Regions from separate parts of the Homo sapiens genome. Here region 2 is linked to region 1. The links come from fine-mapping of genetic effects on gene expression. Tissue or cell type: whole blood. Region 1 holds a variant in brackets; the other region holds the start of a gene. All regions are shown on one strand. Distances are from middle to middle.

Region 1 (8,105 bases):
CTGTAGTCCCCACTACTCGGGAGGCTGAGGCAGGAGAATCGCTTGAACCCAGGAGGTGAAGGCTGCAGTGAGCGAGAACGTGCCACTACACTCCAGCCTGGGCAACAGAGCAAGACTCTAACTCAAAATAAATAAATAAATAAATAAAAGAATAAAAGTAAAATACAAAATAACTGTTAAAATTTTGAATTGACCTAGCATGATCAAAAGAAAATTTAAAAAGAAAATTTTATGACCAAGAAGCAGTCCAAAACTCTTAAGAGATTTAAAATTTCACAAGAGATTATGATAAACAGTTCTACTGTAATGGGACATATATGCTGCAAAAAATCACACCATGCAAAGTTGCATAAAAAGCCATAGGATTTATGAGAAAAATGAGGTAAAGGCATAATACTGGTGACACACAAAAAGAGAACCTAGGAGGCCAGGTGCAGTGGCTCACACCTGTAATCCCAGCACTTTCAGAGGCTGAGGTGGGCAGATCATTTGAGGTCAGGAGTTTGAGACCAGCCTGACCAACATGGTGAAACCCTGTCTCTACTAAATACAAAAAAATTAACCGGGCATGGTGACGGGAGGCTGAGGCAGGAGAATCACTTGAACCCAGGAGGTGGAGGTTGTAGTGAGCTGAGATCACAAAATTGCACTCCAGCCTGGGCAACAAGGGCGAGACTCCCCCTCAAAAAAAAATTTTTTTTTCAACACTTTCAAAACTTAGAAGTTAAAGCAAAGTACAAGGAATTTCCTTGACACAATAAAGTGTTTCTTCCTTAAACCTATAGAAAATATTATACTTTGTGTAAACCACTAAAATCATTTTCTTTAAAAACACATGGCGGCTGGGTGCGGTGGCTCACGCCTGTAATCCCAGCACTCTGGGAGGCTGAGGCAGGCAAATAATGAGGTCAAGAGATCGAGACCATCCTGACTAACACAGTGAAACCCCACCTCTACTAAAAACACAAAAAAATCAGCCAGGTGTGGTGGTGGGCGCCTGTATCCCAGCTACTCAGGAGGCTGAGGCAGGAGAATCACTTGAACCCGGGAGGCGGAGGTTGGCAGTGAGCTGAGATCGTGCCACTGCACTCAAGCCTGGGCAACAAAGAGCAAAACTCCATCTCAAACAAACAAACAAACAAAAAAACTAAGAGAATCGGCTGAGATAAAATGAGAACTGGTGGAGATCCACCATCTTGTCTTGCAGCTGCCTGAGACACAGACATGGCTTCTGTTCCACTGACTCTGGAACTGTGTAAACAGCTGTTGGATTCGACAGTCCCTGATAAACAGCTCTCACCTGACTGACAAAGAGCTGCTTGATTTGTGGATGGCAGTTCCAAGGTGAACAAATGACATCCTGTTTGGAAGACTGCTGCTCTGATTAAAGAAGAGTCAAGAATCTTTCTGAGTTATTTATAGCTTAGGGCAATTGGGTAAAGTATGTTTTGTGAGCAAAATTTACCTTTCTCTCTACCTGATTTCTCCAAAATTTGGAAACTATTCATGAGTATTCTGATTTTATGGCAATAGAGTTATTTGCATAAGTTCAGCAAGAATCTGTTTTCTTTTGTAAAAAGGACACAATTGAGAGACTGGTTATTTTATCAAGGCCTCAAATGGAATGGCATATTTTCAGATATAACCAGGCTGCTTTGAGAAATTTAGGTTGGATTTATAGAGCTGATAAAAAGCCCCTTGGAAAGACTCGCCTGGTACCTTGTCCACCTTAAAGATTCCTGATCTGTGGCAAGTAAAGAATGTCACTTTTTAACAGGCTCAGGAACCTCATGGTATTTTGGGATCTCGAGAAGACAGGAATTCATACAGGTGTTACAAGCACAGTCGAGCAGCAAATCCTTGGCTTGGCTTCTGGCCTTCTAAGCTTTTAAAAAGTCGAATCCAAAATTCCTTTAAAAAGTTCCAGCAAGGCCGAGAGCAGTGGCTTATGCCTGTAATCCCAGCACTTTGGGAGGCTGAGGAGGGCAGATCATGAGGTCAGAAGTTTGAGACCAGCCTGACCAACATGGTGAAACCCTATGTCTACTAAAAATACAAAAATTAGCCAGGCGTGCTGGAACACACCTGTAATCCCAGCTACTCAGGAGGCTGAGGCAGGATAATCGCTTGAACCCGGGAGGCGAAGGTTGCAGTGAGCCAAGATCACACCACTGCACTCCAGCCTGGGCGACAGAGCAAGACTCCGTCTCAAAAAGAAAAAAGAAAAAAAAAAAAAAGCTCCAGCAAAGTCAACTTAAAAGAAGCCTACATGGCTGGTCACTATTCTTGCTATTCTTTATGCAAATAACCAGGCCAAGTATAATGAGATCAAAATTTATTTGCAAATAAGTTGGTCCTGCTACGATTTATTCTTGGTAGAAGTAGGGACACCAGAGAGAGAAAATTTTAGATTCTGATTGCTGTTCTGAGTTTTTATTATTTGCCTATAATTTGGGCTAACTGAATTATTTCCTGGCTACAAGAAGTCCCTAAAAAGGAACCAGGTTTTCGTTTTCTTCATGATACTTTTAGTCGGCCCATTAACGGAACAGGTTATTTGCTGGTGTTGTTCTGGCACAATCAAAAGTTCTCTTTCGTTTGTAATCCTTGTGTGCATTCTATTTCTATTATTCAAATTATTGTTATGTATCTCTCATTGTTTTACTTCATCTGAGACAAGCAAAGTCATAGTATTCTGAAGACTAGAAATGATTCAACAACCCTGTGAACCTCCTTAATTTGGAACCCTCCTTGGCCTAATCTGTTTTCCACTGCACTGCTGCTAAAGCTCTGCAATATCAGGCACCCTACCTAACGTTCAGGGGAGGGCGCATAAGATAGAAAAGCTGGACTGGGAGGTGAAGTGTGAAGGCCAAAGCAACTCCATCTTGGAAGCTCATCGACCATGTGGGCTTCTGATTAACCCCTGTTCTGGACTCTATCTTGGAAGCTCATCGACCATGTGGGCTTCTGATTAACCCCTGTTCTGGACTCCATCTTGGAAGCTAATCTACCATGTGGGTTTCTGATTAACCCCTGTTCTGGACTCCATCTTGGAAGCTCATCGACCATGTGGGCTTCTGATTAACCCCTGTTCTGGACTCCATCTTGGAAACTAATCTACCATGTGAGCTTCTGATTAACCCCTGTTCTGGACTCCATCTTGGAAGTTCATCTACCGTGTGGGCTTCTGATTAGCCCCTGTTCTGGGAAGGCCTCTAAGATTTCCAGTTCATCTATTGTTCCTTGTGTCAGACCAGGTACTTACCATAAATCCTACCCTTAGGTCAAACAACCTTGATGTAACTGTACTTCAACTGTCTTACACATCCCTTCTGAACCACCCCTCCCTACGGTCTAGAAGCACTGGGTCTGGGGGTAATGGTGCAGGGATCCACCACCTTGTCTTGCCACTGCATGAGACACAGACATGGCTTCTGTTCTTAAGTCCCTATTAAATGTTTCTTTCTAAGAAAACAAAACAAAACAAAACAAAA[CAAAAA/A]ACCATGAGAACCAGTAAGAAAAGTCAACAGGGTAGCAGTTTTAAACAAAACAATAAGGAATAGCTTTTTGGCACATTAGCAGTCACCAACCAGAAAATATAGTAAGAAAATGCCTATATGATCACAGTAACAAATCTAGAAAGTACTTAGGAATAAAAAGCTTTAAAACGCAGGAAAACCTAACAAAAAATACACATGATAAAATATGTAAGTACAAAGAGATTGAAGCAACATGCCATGTTTATGATGAGTAGACTTACATGGCAAAGATATTAATTTTCCACAAATTAATTTGCACATTTGATAAATTCTCAATGAAAATACCAAGAAAGTTTTTCATTTTATTTCACCTAATAATTCTAACTCTCAATAATGTAAAATAAAATCATATGCTTGGACTACTACTGCTACAACTAGAAAATTCTAAATACTCTTATCTTTTTTAAAACACCAGAGACCTGTGGAAGGAAGGAGGACTAAACAAACTAAAATTGCGAGAGAAAAGAGCTCCTCTTGGGTGAGCTAAAATTGCTGGCTGTTACCTCGCTGGGCCATTTGCTCAGCTTGAGAACAGTGAAGGAAGGGCTCGGCCCAGACAGAGGACTATTCTAGGGGAAAGAGAAACCAGTGAAGGTTTTGATGTGCCCCAGTGGACAGTGAGTTTTCCCCATGGGACATCTGTTGAGTGCTGGTCAGTGCAAGAAGCTGCAGGCTGGGCTGGAATGGCAGACTGAGTCTCCCGCAGCCTCAAGGTGCTCCAGAAACAAAGTACCAGTAGAGAGGAGCCTGCAATAAATATACCATCCAGAAACCCGAAGACACAGGTAACAGAGTACAGCCCCTAAACAGCTCAATTCCTGTTTTGATTGAGGTGATCAGCCATTCCCCTACTGCATGACAGAGAAAAGGGGAAATATCCTCTGATATAAAACAACAGTAAGGTCAGGTATGGTGGCTCACCCCTGTAATCCCAGCACTTTGGGAGGCCAAGGTGGGTGGATCACCTGAGGCCAGGAGTTTGAGACCAGCCTGACCAACATGGTGAAATCCCGTCTCTACTAAATATACAAAAATTATCCAGGCATGGTGGTGGGCAACTGTAATCCCAGCTACTGGGTAGGCTGAGGCAGAAGAATTGCTTGAACCCAGGAGGCGGAGGTTGCAGTGAGCCAAGATCGCGCCACTGCACTCCAGCCTGGGCGACAGAGCAAGACTCTGTCTCAAAAAAAACCACAACAGTAAACTTCAGTCTCTGTGGTTATTCCTTTTAAAACAATGTCAGCAAAAAATTAAAAACTTTGAGACATGAGGCAGGAAAATATGACTGACAAAAGGAATAGGCAGATAATTGATAAAGATGCACAGATGATCCAGATGATGTTAGCAAACAAGTAATATTACAAATAACTATCATAATATATAACTATGTAAATATTTAAAATACAGAGAAGTTGTATACAGTGAATAAAAGGAGAACTGGAATTAAAAAAAAAAAAAAACAAGGAGACATTTAGAAACAAACAACTGATCCCTGAAATGAGCATCAACGGGACAATGGCCAATACAAGTCTGTTAAGGATGTGGAGCAAACCATCCTTCTCGTGGGGTTGTGTTACTGTCCAGTGAGCGCATGGTGAGGGCAATACTGCTAACGCCTACACAACACACCCACATCAACTATGGTGGTGCAATTTTTTGAAAAGTGGAAAACCTCTTTTCCATGAAAATAAAAAGGGATATAGAGCAAATGCAGTTCTCAATTCCTGGTACTGGGAATGTGAAGTCATTTCGCCACTTTGGAAAACTAAGAGTATGTACTAAATTTAAATATACGTATACAATGACTCAACAGTATCATTCGTAAGTATGTGCCCAGTGGTTCTCAATGGGCAGGAGGGAGATTTTGCCCCCCCGGGGGCATTTGACAATGTCTGGAGCCCTTTATGGTTGTCATAGTGGGGCAGTGCTACTGGCACCTACATAAGTCGGGGCCAGGAATGCTGCTCAGCAACCCACGATGCACAGGACGTTCCTCCACAACAAAGAATTATTCCATCCAAAATGTCAATAGTGCTGAGGTTGAAAAATCCTGGTATGTGCCTAACAGAAATGATAGTTGATGTCTACCAAAACAAATGTACAAAAAGGTTCAAAGTCGTGTTATCTAAAATAACCAGTAACTGAAAACAACCTAAACACTGATGTTGATAACAGATTATTACAACAGACAAATTATGAAATGTTCATACAACAGAATATCATACAACTTCACAAAAATAAGCCAACACAAACATTTTAAGGATATAAACATATGCATTAAAAATGTACAGGGAAAGACCTAGAAGAATATCTATCAAACTGATTACCTCCGAGGAGAGAGAGGGGATTGGGATGGGTGGGTGGTTATAAGAGACTGAATTGTGTTCTAAGAGAATCAACTGTATCATCAAAAATTAATAGTTCCAGTTCTGCATGTAAAGAGTTTGGAAGTAGCCACTCTGTCCTAACAAGTAAAAAGTTTAACAAACTGAAAAATCAACAACTCTTCTTAGATCTGAAAGAGAAGTGAAGATACAAGGCAAACAAACCACTGTCCCCAAAATTAGAGACAGGCAGAAACACAGTAGTTACCAGATCACAAATCTCTGTGAGAAAGCGTCAGGACAGAAATACCTGAACTGCAACTGACAAATTGCTAGAGGCTAGGTGTGTACATGTTTGAAGTTAAAAAGTCCAGGGGGACCCAGTCATGGTGGGAGTGGAGGGAGACAAAGTCCCAAGCTTTTCTGAGTTTTACTTTCAGGAGCTCAACCAGGTTCCCAGAGCCTAATATATTGGGGTTTTGTCAGAGCTTAACTAACCTGAGGGAAGAGAGATATACCAAATTCCACCCTGTCCCATCTAAGAGATGGGGTGGGGGTGGCCTGGGAAATACTTGTGAGGTTGAGAGTCCAGGAGAACAGGCTCACAAAGAGACAGACCTAATCAGGGGCCTACAGAATGCTCACCCTTTCCTGACATCTCATCACCACATTAGTAAAGTACTATTAAAAGTAATTCCTTTTACTCAGTACATCATGTCTAGCTATGAATGTAAAGGGACAAGGCAATACTAAAAGGCAAAAAAACATAGGGCAACCACGCGCCGTGGCTCACGCCTGTAATCCCAGCACTCTGGGAGGCCGAGGGGGGTAGATCACCTGAGGTCAGGAATTCGAGATCAGCCTGGCCAGTATGGTGAAACCCCGTCTCTACTAAAAATACAAAAATCAGCCGGGCATGGTGGAGTGCACCTGTAGTCCCAGCTACTCGGGAGGCTGAGGCAGAAGAATCACTTGAACCCAACAGGCGGAGGTTGTAGTGAGCCAAGATCACACCACTGCACTCCAGCCTGGACTCCATCTCAAAAAAAAAAATAAAAACAAAAACAAAAACACAGACAGGGCAAGCATCAGAACCAGACATGATAGGGATGTTGAAGGTATCAGACAAAACTTAAAACAACCATGAATAATATGTTATGGGCTCTAGTGAATAAAGTAGGCAGCATGTAAGAACAGATGGGCAGGCCAGGCGTAGTGGCTCACACCTGTAATCCCAGCACTTTGAGAGGCTGAGGTGGGTAGATCACTTGAGGTCAGAAGTTCGAAACCAGCCTAACCAACATACTGAAACTCTGTCTCTACTAAAAATACAAAAATTAGCTAGGCACGGTGGTGCGCACCTGTAGTCCCAGCTACTCAGGAGGCTGAGGCACAAGAATGGCTTGAACCTGAGAGGTAGAGGCTGCAGTGAGCCCAGATCGCACCACTGCACTCCAGCCTGGGCAAGAAAGTGAGACTCCATCTCAAAAAAAAAAAAAAAGAAATACTAGTGATCAAAAACACTGTACAGAAGTGAAGAATGCCTTTGATGGGCTTATGTATTATGTAGACTGCACGAGATTGAGGAAAAAAATCTTTGAACTTAAGGATGTATCAACAGAAACCTTCAAGCAAAGAGAACACTGGGGAAAAAAAAAAAGAACAGAATATCCAAGATGGACAGCCACAAAAGGTGTAGATATGCACAATGGAAATACCCGAAGGAAAGGAAAAGAACAGAAGAAAGACAGTCGGTGCCTGACGCACAGTGGTTTGACTTAGTATTTTTCAATTTTACAATGGCGCAGAAGCAATACACTTCAGTACGTTCCCCAACTTATGATGAGGCTCCATCTGGATAAACCTATTATAAGTTGAACATATTGTAAGTCGAAAATGCACTTCTGACAAAGAGATTTTCAATTTATGATGAGTTTATCAGGATGTAACCACATCATCAAGTCAAGGAGCATCTATATATGAAACAATAATTACTGAAAATTTCGCTGAAGTAATGTCAGACACCAAATCACAGATGGAGGAAAATCCGAGAATACCAAGAAGATAAATGCCAAAAAACCTGCACGTAGGCATATCATTTTTAAAACACAAAAAATCAAAGATAAGCCAGAGATGAAAAAAAATACCTTACCTACAGAAACCACACAAGCAAGAAAATGGAGTGAAACAGTTAAGGTGTTTAGAGAAAAAAAAATCATCAAAACAGAATTCTGTACCC
Region 2 (8,105 bases), 42 kb before region 1:
ACTACTTTTATGTCTAGGAGCCATTATTAAGTAAAATAAGGGCTACTAAAATACAAGCACTGCAATACCATGAGCTGATCTGACACCTCAGATGGCTACTAAGTGACTGACAGGTAAGCAGCATATACAGCATGGATCTGCTGGACCAAGGGATGAGGCAGGTCCTGGGTGGGATGGTGCAAGAGTTCATCATGCTACTCAGAACAGGAAGCAATTTAAAACTTACCAATTGCTTATTTCTGAAATTTTCTATTTAATATTTTCAAACCATGGGAAATTGGAAAATTGAAACTGCAAAAAGCAAAACTGCAGATAAGGAGGAACTACTGCATATCTCTCATTCATAAGACTTCATCAAGGAAAAAGAAATGGACACCCGATAACCAAGAAATATTTACTTCCTATGGGCAATCAGTTTGCTTTTACCTTTAAACGATGCAAAGCATATAAAAGCTCACATTTCTCTATTACGACTACCAAAAATTTGAAAACAAAGTTTGCAGCTCAAATGCAGTAATTATGTAAGATGTTATGGCTTTAAATATGCTATAAATACTCAATCCTAAGAACCTGTCATGGTCCAGTAGTTAATATATCACTGTGCCAATTTTGTTCCAATCCTGATCATCTGAGGCTATTTTCCTCTGATTTCTTAACTATTTAAACTTTTCTTTTTCACCGGAAGGCTTATACATTTCTTCTAATTCCCTGGGAAAAAATAAGAACTCAACAATCAACTCACCTGTAACATGGTCATTTTCTGCTGCTGTACGAGATGATCAGCAAGGCTGAGATCGGTTCTACTGTGCGTCTCTTCTGCTTCTGCCCCAAAACTGTGGAGTGAGGTCTCAGCTAGGTCTTCTACACTGAGAATGAATTCCTGGTTCCAGGAACTCCTTTCTTATCTCACATGAGCAGGCTTATTTGTAGGGACCAGGATCTGTGGACTTCGGGAGAAATGTACTTCAACTGGTATATTCACATTGCACATGAAATCTCTTTCTCTCTTGCTAGGAACTTGGAATTCACGATCATCTAAGGCCAGAGGTACGCTTGCTATATAACTGAAACAGCACTCTCAGGGAAACAGAATATAGTAAAATGGAACAGTGGAAGCCTAGGTCTCTGCAAACAGATAAGGAAATATCAGAAATAAAGTAATTGTGAGATTCACTCAATATTCACTGTGAATGCTGAAATGCAAATCAGTTTAACAGGTGCTGTTAGGAAAAACACAGTTTATATGATCTGTATTAAAACAGATTTGAGTTTCAATCAACTTTTTCCTTTACCAGCTAGATGACTTTTGGCAAAAACAAACAAATTTCACCATTCTGAGCCTAATTTCCTATTAAAATCTTCTATTAATATATCCTTAACTTTTGTCTGCCATTTTTGTCTACCCATTTCAGAAGGAAATGGGTTAAAATCTCACAATATGACTAGAGATTGGTCAGTTTTTCCTTATAATTCTGCTGATGTTTGGATTATATGCTTATGGCTATGTTGTTTGATGCGTCAAGGTTAAATAGGGGTTTTAAAAAATCATTGTGTAACAACGCTTCATACCCCCAATAATGCTTTTTGCCTTAAAATCTATTTTATCTTAGATGAAGTCTGCAACATCAGCATTCTTTTTTTTTTTTTTTTTTTTTGGTACGGTCTTGCTCCCTAACCCAGGCTGGCATGCAGTGGCACAATCAGAGCTCACTGCAACTTTGAACTCCAGGCTCAAGGGATCCTCCTGCCTCAGCCTCCCACGTAGCTGGAACTACAGGTTTGTGTGCCTCCATGCCCAGCTAACTGTTTTTGTATTTTTTTTCTTTGTAGAGACAGGATCTCGCTATGCTGCCCAGGATAGTCTCAAACTCCTGGGCTCAAGCAATTCTCCCACCTCAGCCTCCCAGAGTGCTAGGATTATAGGCATACAACACCACACCTGGCTTCAGCATTCTTTTGGTATTTACGTGGTATGTTATCATCTGGTCAACTACACTAAAAATCTTAGCATCATTATCTTTGTCCCTTATAAGCAGCTCAGAGCTCAAATTTATTGGTGTTTAAAAAAAAAAAAATCCAAATTGGCCAGGAGCGATGGCTTACGCCTGTAATTCCAGCACTTTGGGAGGCCAAGGCAGATGGATCACCTGAGGTCAGGAGTTCAACCAGCCTGACCAACATGATGAAACCCCATCTCTACTAAAAATACAAAAATAAACCAGGCGTGGTGGCATGCACCTGTAAGCTCAGCTACTTGGGAGGCTGAGGCAGAAGAGTTGCTTGAACCTGGGAGGTGGATGTTGCAGCCCGTGCCATTGTACTCCAGCCTGGTGCAACAAAAGGGAAACTCCATCTCAAAAAAAAAAAAAAAATCCAAACCAACAGTGTGTCTTTTAACTGACAAATTGAATACATTTAATGTTTATTGTGGTTACTGTTTTTCCCCCCTCCTTTCTTGCCTTCAAAGCCTCAATTTCTGTACTTGCTAAAATGGTGAAGATAAAGTGGACCTCACAATGGGAGTCTAAGAAACAAATGAGGTGTTAAAAGGAAAGCGACTGGGGCCTTGTAATAACAGTTACAGCTAACATTCCAGTGCTTTCTGTATGTGAGACAATATACTAAGCATTTTAAATTTAACTCATGCACAACCCTATAAGGCGTTTAACATAATCTCCATTTTACAGAGAGAAAACTGGGACAATGAGTGATTGTAAAATGTGCCTGTGATTGCACATTTAGTAAGTAGCAAAATTCAAATGTTAATTCTCTATCCTGCTATGTTCAAAGCATGAATACTAAAGTCATATTGTCATTTGTGCATATCTACATGCACAAACACACACAACATAAATCCTGGAGTCAGCTCCTATTCCCATGCACACATTCAGTCACTAATTCCCACAAAAATATAAATGAAGGACGCCCTGCCTCAACTGTATCACACTAACAAGCAGCACTTTCTTTTTCATGCCTTTTTGTGGTTCAAACTTCAGTGCCAACTCAGAAACACACAGCAGTTTCTCCCAGTTATACAAGAAATGACTCCTTTATACCTTAAATTGTGATAATACATAAATCTTAGAACAAAAGCTGGCACACAGTCATACGAAACATATACTAGCTATAATTATTATTATAAAAGTAATATATGATGGCAAAATATAAAAAACATACACAAGCTAAATAAGAACTATTATCTATGATCTCACCACAGGTAACCATTCTTAGGATGATGGAAACTATTGTGATATTTTTCATACAATGGAAGCATATGGTCATATTTAAAAGCTGTTTTTGTTTTTTTCCCATTATGTGAAGAACATCTTTCCAGGTCAATAACCTTATTTCTGTAAGATATAAACAACTCACATAAAATAACAAAAAAATAAAATCCGACTCATAATTGACAAAATACATAAAATATGTAGGAATATCAAGACCCATATGAAGCATACTAAAAACACCAATGAGAACTATAAAAATAGAATTAAAGAAATTTATAATTCGATTTTATTCTGGGATAGGAAGACTTCAGATTGTGAAGATAATTTGACCTCAAATGATTTATATAACTCATCGACTCCAATCAGAATCTCAAAATTCTAAAGTTTATGTGTAAGAAAAAAGGTTCAAGAACAATTCGGACACTTTTTTTTTTTTTTTGACAGGGTCTTACTGTGTTGTCCAGGCTGAAGTGCAATGGCATAACCATAGCTCACTGCAGCCCTGAACTCCTGGGCTCAAGTGATCCTCCTACCTCAACCTACAGAGTAGCTGGGGCTACAGGCATGCCCTACCACACCGGGCCTGGATGCTTTTGGAAATACAAAATAATGAGTGTGAACAGGCCCACTGTAATACATACAAATTATAATCATTATAACATTTGACACTGGCTCCAGAGAAGTTATACAGATGAAAAAAAGCAAACTGTCTAAATATGCAAGAGTCAGCATGCAATAAATGTAGCATTTCAAAGCCATCAGTAAAATTAAATTATTTAATGAATACAAGAATATTTGAAAGAAAATAAACGTAGCTATTTCATACAACTACTTTCAGTGGGTTAAATTTTAAAATAATGGAAACCCTAAGAATGTCTACAAAAAAAAACCACAGGTGAATGAATATATGTATAATTTGAGGGGAGATTTCGCTACACCATACCAAAAGCAAAAGTCACTTAAAAAATTTAAAACAGTCAATAAATATAACCATTAAAAAATACACGGCCAGGAATGGTGGCTCACACCTGTAACCCCAGCGCTTTAAAAGCCTCCTTCGATAGCGGCAGAGCCAGGCTGCTGGTGGATGCGGTCCAGCAGGGCAGCCGCTCCTTAGGGCCACGGCGCGGCAAGCGGGCTGGCCCGAGGTCGAGGCTAAACGCGCCCGAGGCTAAACGCGCCCGAGGCTGGCGCCTCCACGCCCGCCTGAAAGGACGCCCAGGAGCGGCGCCTCCGGAAAGGCCGTGCCCGCCCCACAGCCCAGAATCCGCGCAGCTCCGCGGCCCACGGCATCTTCACGACCCGGCCCAGCCCCAACCCGCCCCAGACCCGCATCCGCGCGCGGACGCCCAGGGCCTTGAAGCCGAAGCTCCCCGCGGCCACTCCCGCGCGCCTCCCCCGCCATTCCCGGAGCCCCCAGCGCCGGGCCCGCAATAAACTCACTGAACTCACAAAAGACGCCGCCGCCGAGTCGCGCCCGCGCGCCCGCGGCCTCGCGATCACGTGACACCGCCCGTCCCCCGTGTCCCGCGCACGCGCCCAAACCGTCGGCCTTTGTGCGCTCCCGGGCGGCTCCGAACGGGCCGGGACGAGTCGGGGACTGCACACGCGCACACTCGCACGCGCGCACACGCGTACACTCCCCTCTCACGTGGCAGCGAAGGACAAAGAGGAAGAACGGGCCACCTGCAAGCATTACCAAGAGTGCATGTGCGCATGCGCGAAGGAAGGAGCCCCGCGAACTCAACTTCCCACAGTGCCCCGCGTCCGGAAGTGCCTGTCGCTTGGAGACGGAGTGACTCCAAACGGGCTCACACGGTTTTCTGAGAAACATAAAGGGAAACCGAATCCACCAATATATATATATATTTTCTTGAGACGGCGTCTCGCTCTGTCACCCAGGCTGGAGTGCAGTGGCGTGATCTCGGCTCACTGCAAACTCCGCCTCCCGGGTTGACGCCATTCTTCTGCCTCAGCCTCCCGAGTAGCTGGGACTACAGGCGCCCGCCGCCACGCCCGGCTAATTTTTTTGTATTTTAGTAGAGACGGGGAGTCACCGTGTTGCCCAGGCTGGTCGCGAACTCCTGAGCTCAGGCAATCCGCCCGCCTTGGCCTCCCAAAGTGCTAGGATTACAGGCGTGAGCCACCGCGCCCGGCCCACCAATACTCAATTGGTTTGACTTCAGTTGAGGAAACCAGAAAAAATTTAAATATATTTATGGAAAGAAGGTAAGAATTAACAGAAAAAAGTAAAGTTGATCCATAACTGGAGTCGTAGGGAGAATTATAGGTAAGTCACGATGCTTATGACAGCAAGATGGGGCCGGGGAGATGGAGGAGAGAGATGAAAAAAGAGAAATAACCATAGACACATAGGAAATTGAATGAAAATCCGCTCTATACTAATAAATTTGATAATTTGTGACACAAATGATTCTCCAGGACAACATGGGCCAAATTTGACCCAATTTTATCCACAATTTGAAGACAAATTCAGAGATCCTTTGCCAGAAAGCATCATAATGAGTTGCTTAGTGAATTGCTTCAAACATCCAGTGATTAGAGAATTCTTATATTTATTCCCAGAGGTAGAACTCACCAGTGAAGTACTAGCATAAAAACAGACGCATGGACCAATGTGGAACAGCGTAGAAAAACCAGAAATAACCCCATGCATATACAGTCAACTAATCTTAGGCAAGTCAACTAATCTTGTGTCAAGAATACACGATGGGGAAAGGACAGTCGCTTCAATAAATAGCGTGAGGAAACCGGATATCCAAATACTGCTACGCAAAAGACCTCATTGCCCGATGTGCACAGAAGCCAATACTATGGCACCAGGCGTTTGAGAAAAGAAAAGCTTAATTGCGAGTTGACCAACAAAGTGACAGGAGTTTAGTTCAAATCTATCTCTCTGTGCTGCCCTTAAGGCAGCACTATTGTGAAAAAAGGTTTAGAGGGTGGATTCTGGGATTCACAGGTGAATGGTGAAGGAAAAAGGAAGTCTGGAAAGTCCCCGACCATGTGCAGTTGTCTCTTCAAGCCTCTTCTTGGGTCCCATGTGCAAATTAAGGTAGAGTTAGTGTGAAAAGTGCAGTGGAAATTCAGGCTGCGACATCAGCAAGCTCATTCTGCATGGACTCCGTTTGGTTATATTGGTTTCAACTGATTTCAGCCAGTTGTATTATATTACAAACGGAGTTTCAGCAAACTGTTTCTTATCTGCCATCCTGTAAGCTCAAGAATTTCTGTTAGCCGGACGCGGTGGCTCACGCCTATAATCCTAGCACTTTGGGAGGCCGAGGCGGGCAGATCACCTGAGGTCAGGAGTTCGAGACCAGCCTGGCCAACATGGTGAAACCCTGTCTCTACTAAAAATACAAAAATTAGCTGGGCGTGGTGGTGCACACCTGTAATCCCAGCTCCTCGGGAGGCTGAGGCAGGAGAATCGCTTGAACCTGGGAGGTGGAGATTGCAGCGAGCCGACATCGCGCCACTGCACTCCAGCCTGGGCGACAAGAGCGAGACTCCATCTCAAAAAAAAAAAATTCGTTAGTCACTGGTTTCTTTAACTATTTGGGGGCATGGTTTCACAACTTCTTCTTCTTCTTTTTTTTTTTTTTTGAGACAATCCCTCACCAGAATCTAGGCCTTTTCTAACCTGCTCCTCCAGACTCTTCCAAACTCTGCCCATTACCCAGTTCCAAAGCCACTTCCACATTTTCAGGATTTATTATTAGCAACAGCCCCACTCCTCAGTACCAATTTTCTGTCTTAGTTTATTTTCTATTGCTGTAACTGAATACCTGACACTGAATAATTTATAAAGAAAATGAATTTATTTCTTACAGTTCTGGAGACTGGGAAGTCCAAGGTTGAGGGACACTTCTGGTAAGGACTTCCTTGCTAGCAGGACTCTCTGCAGAGCCCCAGGTCAGTCCAGGGTGCACACTGTGAAGGGGGATCAAGCAGCCGAGCCCATTTCTCTCTTTCTCTTCCTATAAAGCCACTAATGCCCACCCTCATGAGCTCATCTAATCCTAGTTACCTCCCAAAGGTCCCACCTCTCAATTGCCATAGGCAGCTTTCCCACTCTCCTAACACTGTTACAATGGGGGTTAGTTGCAACGTAATTTTCAGAGGGCATAGACATTCAAATCATAGCAGTATATATCCAAAATAAATAAAATTAAAAGATATCTCAGCGATATCTGCACTCCCCTGTTCATTGCAGCATTATTCACAATAGTGAAGATGTAGAAACAACCTAAGCATCTATCAAAAGATAAAGAAAATGTAGTATACGTACACAATAGAATATTACTTGGCCTCAAAAAAGGAGAAAATTCTGTGATTTACTACAACATGGATGAGCCTGGAGGACATTATGCAAAGTGAAATACACATAGAAATACACGGATACAGAAAGAAGATACTACACGATCTCACGTAGATGTGGAATCTTAAAAAGTCGAACTCATAGAAACAGTGGAAGAGTGGTTACCAGAGGTCAGGTGGCAAGTAGGGGAAATGAGGAGATGTTGGTCAAATGTTTTAAAAAGAGAACAAACTTGCAGTTATAACATGAATAAATTCTGGAGACCTAATGGACAGCATGGTGACGACAGTTAATAATATGTTGTACGCTTGAAATTCACTTAGAGTAAGCCTGAAATACCCTAATCACACATACCTAAAGGGTAACTATGTGAGGTGATGGATACATTCACTGGCTTGATTGTGTCAGTCACTTCACAATGATATATATATATATATATATATATAAAGATCCCATTGTCATCTTGGATACAATTTTATCTCATTTTTTTCTTTTCTTAAACATTTTATTGATTTTATAGAGGGATTTCTTTTTTT

What was found. PIP is the estimated chance that this variant, and not a neighbour inherited with it, causes the effect.
Region 2: ZNF84 starts here. The variant in region 1 is fine-mapped to the expression of ZNF84 in whole blood (INTERVAL, PIP 0.96).

What each region holds. Positions count from the first base shown.
Region 1 is chr12:132,992,290-133,000,394 of GRCh38, reverse strand. All of the region lies in intron 1 of ZNF26 (zinc finger protein 26), which reads right to left. It also overlaps the pseudogene RNU4ATAC12P. Among named protein-coding and RNA genes, the nearest start is that of ZNF26, 10 kb to the right of the region's middle. The variant CAAAAA/A (reference allele first, on the strand shown) is at 3,498.
Region 2 is chr12:133,034,120-133,042,224 of GRCh38, reverse strand. ZNF84 (zinc finger protein 84) reads right to left here and starts at 4,716. Exons shown (of 5, transcript NM_001289971.2): 1 at 4,680-4,716; 2 at 743-947. The coding sequence starts at 757. It overlaps ZNF84-DT (ZNF84 divergent transcript), which reads left to right and starts at 5,003. Exons shown (of 3, transcript NR_110091.1): 1 at 5,003-5,456. It also overlaps the pseudogene PTP4A1P2. RefSeq lists a silencer at 4,610-4,789 and an enhancer at 5,010-5,099.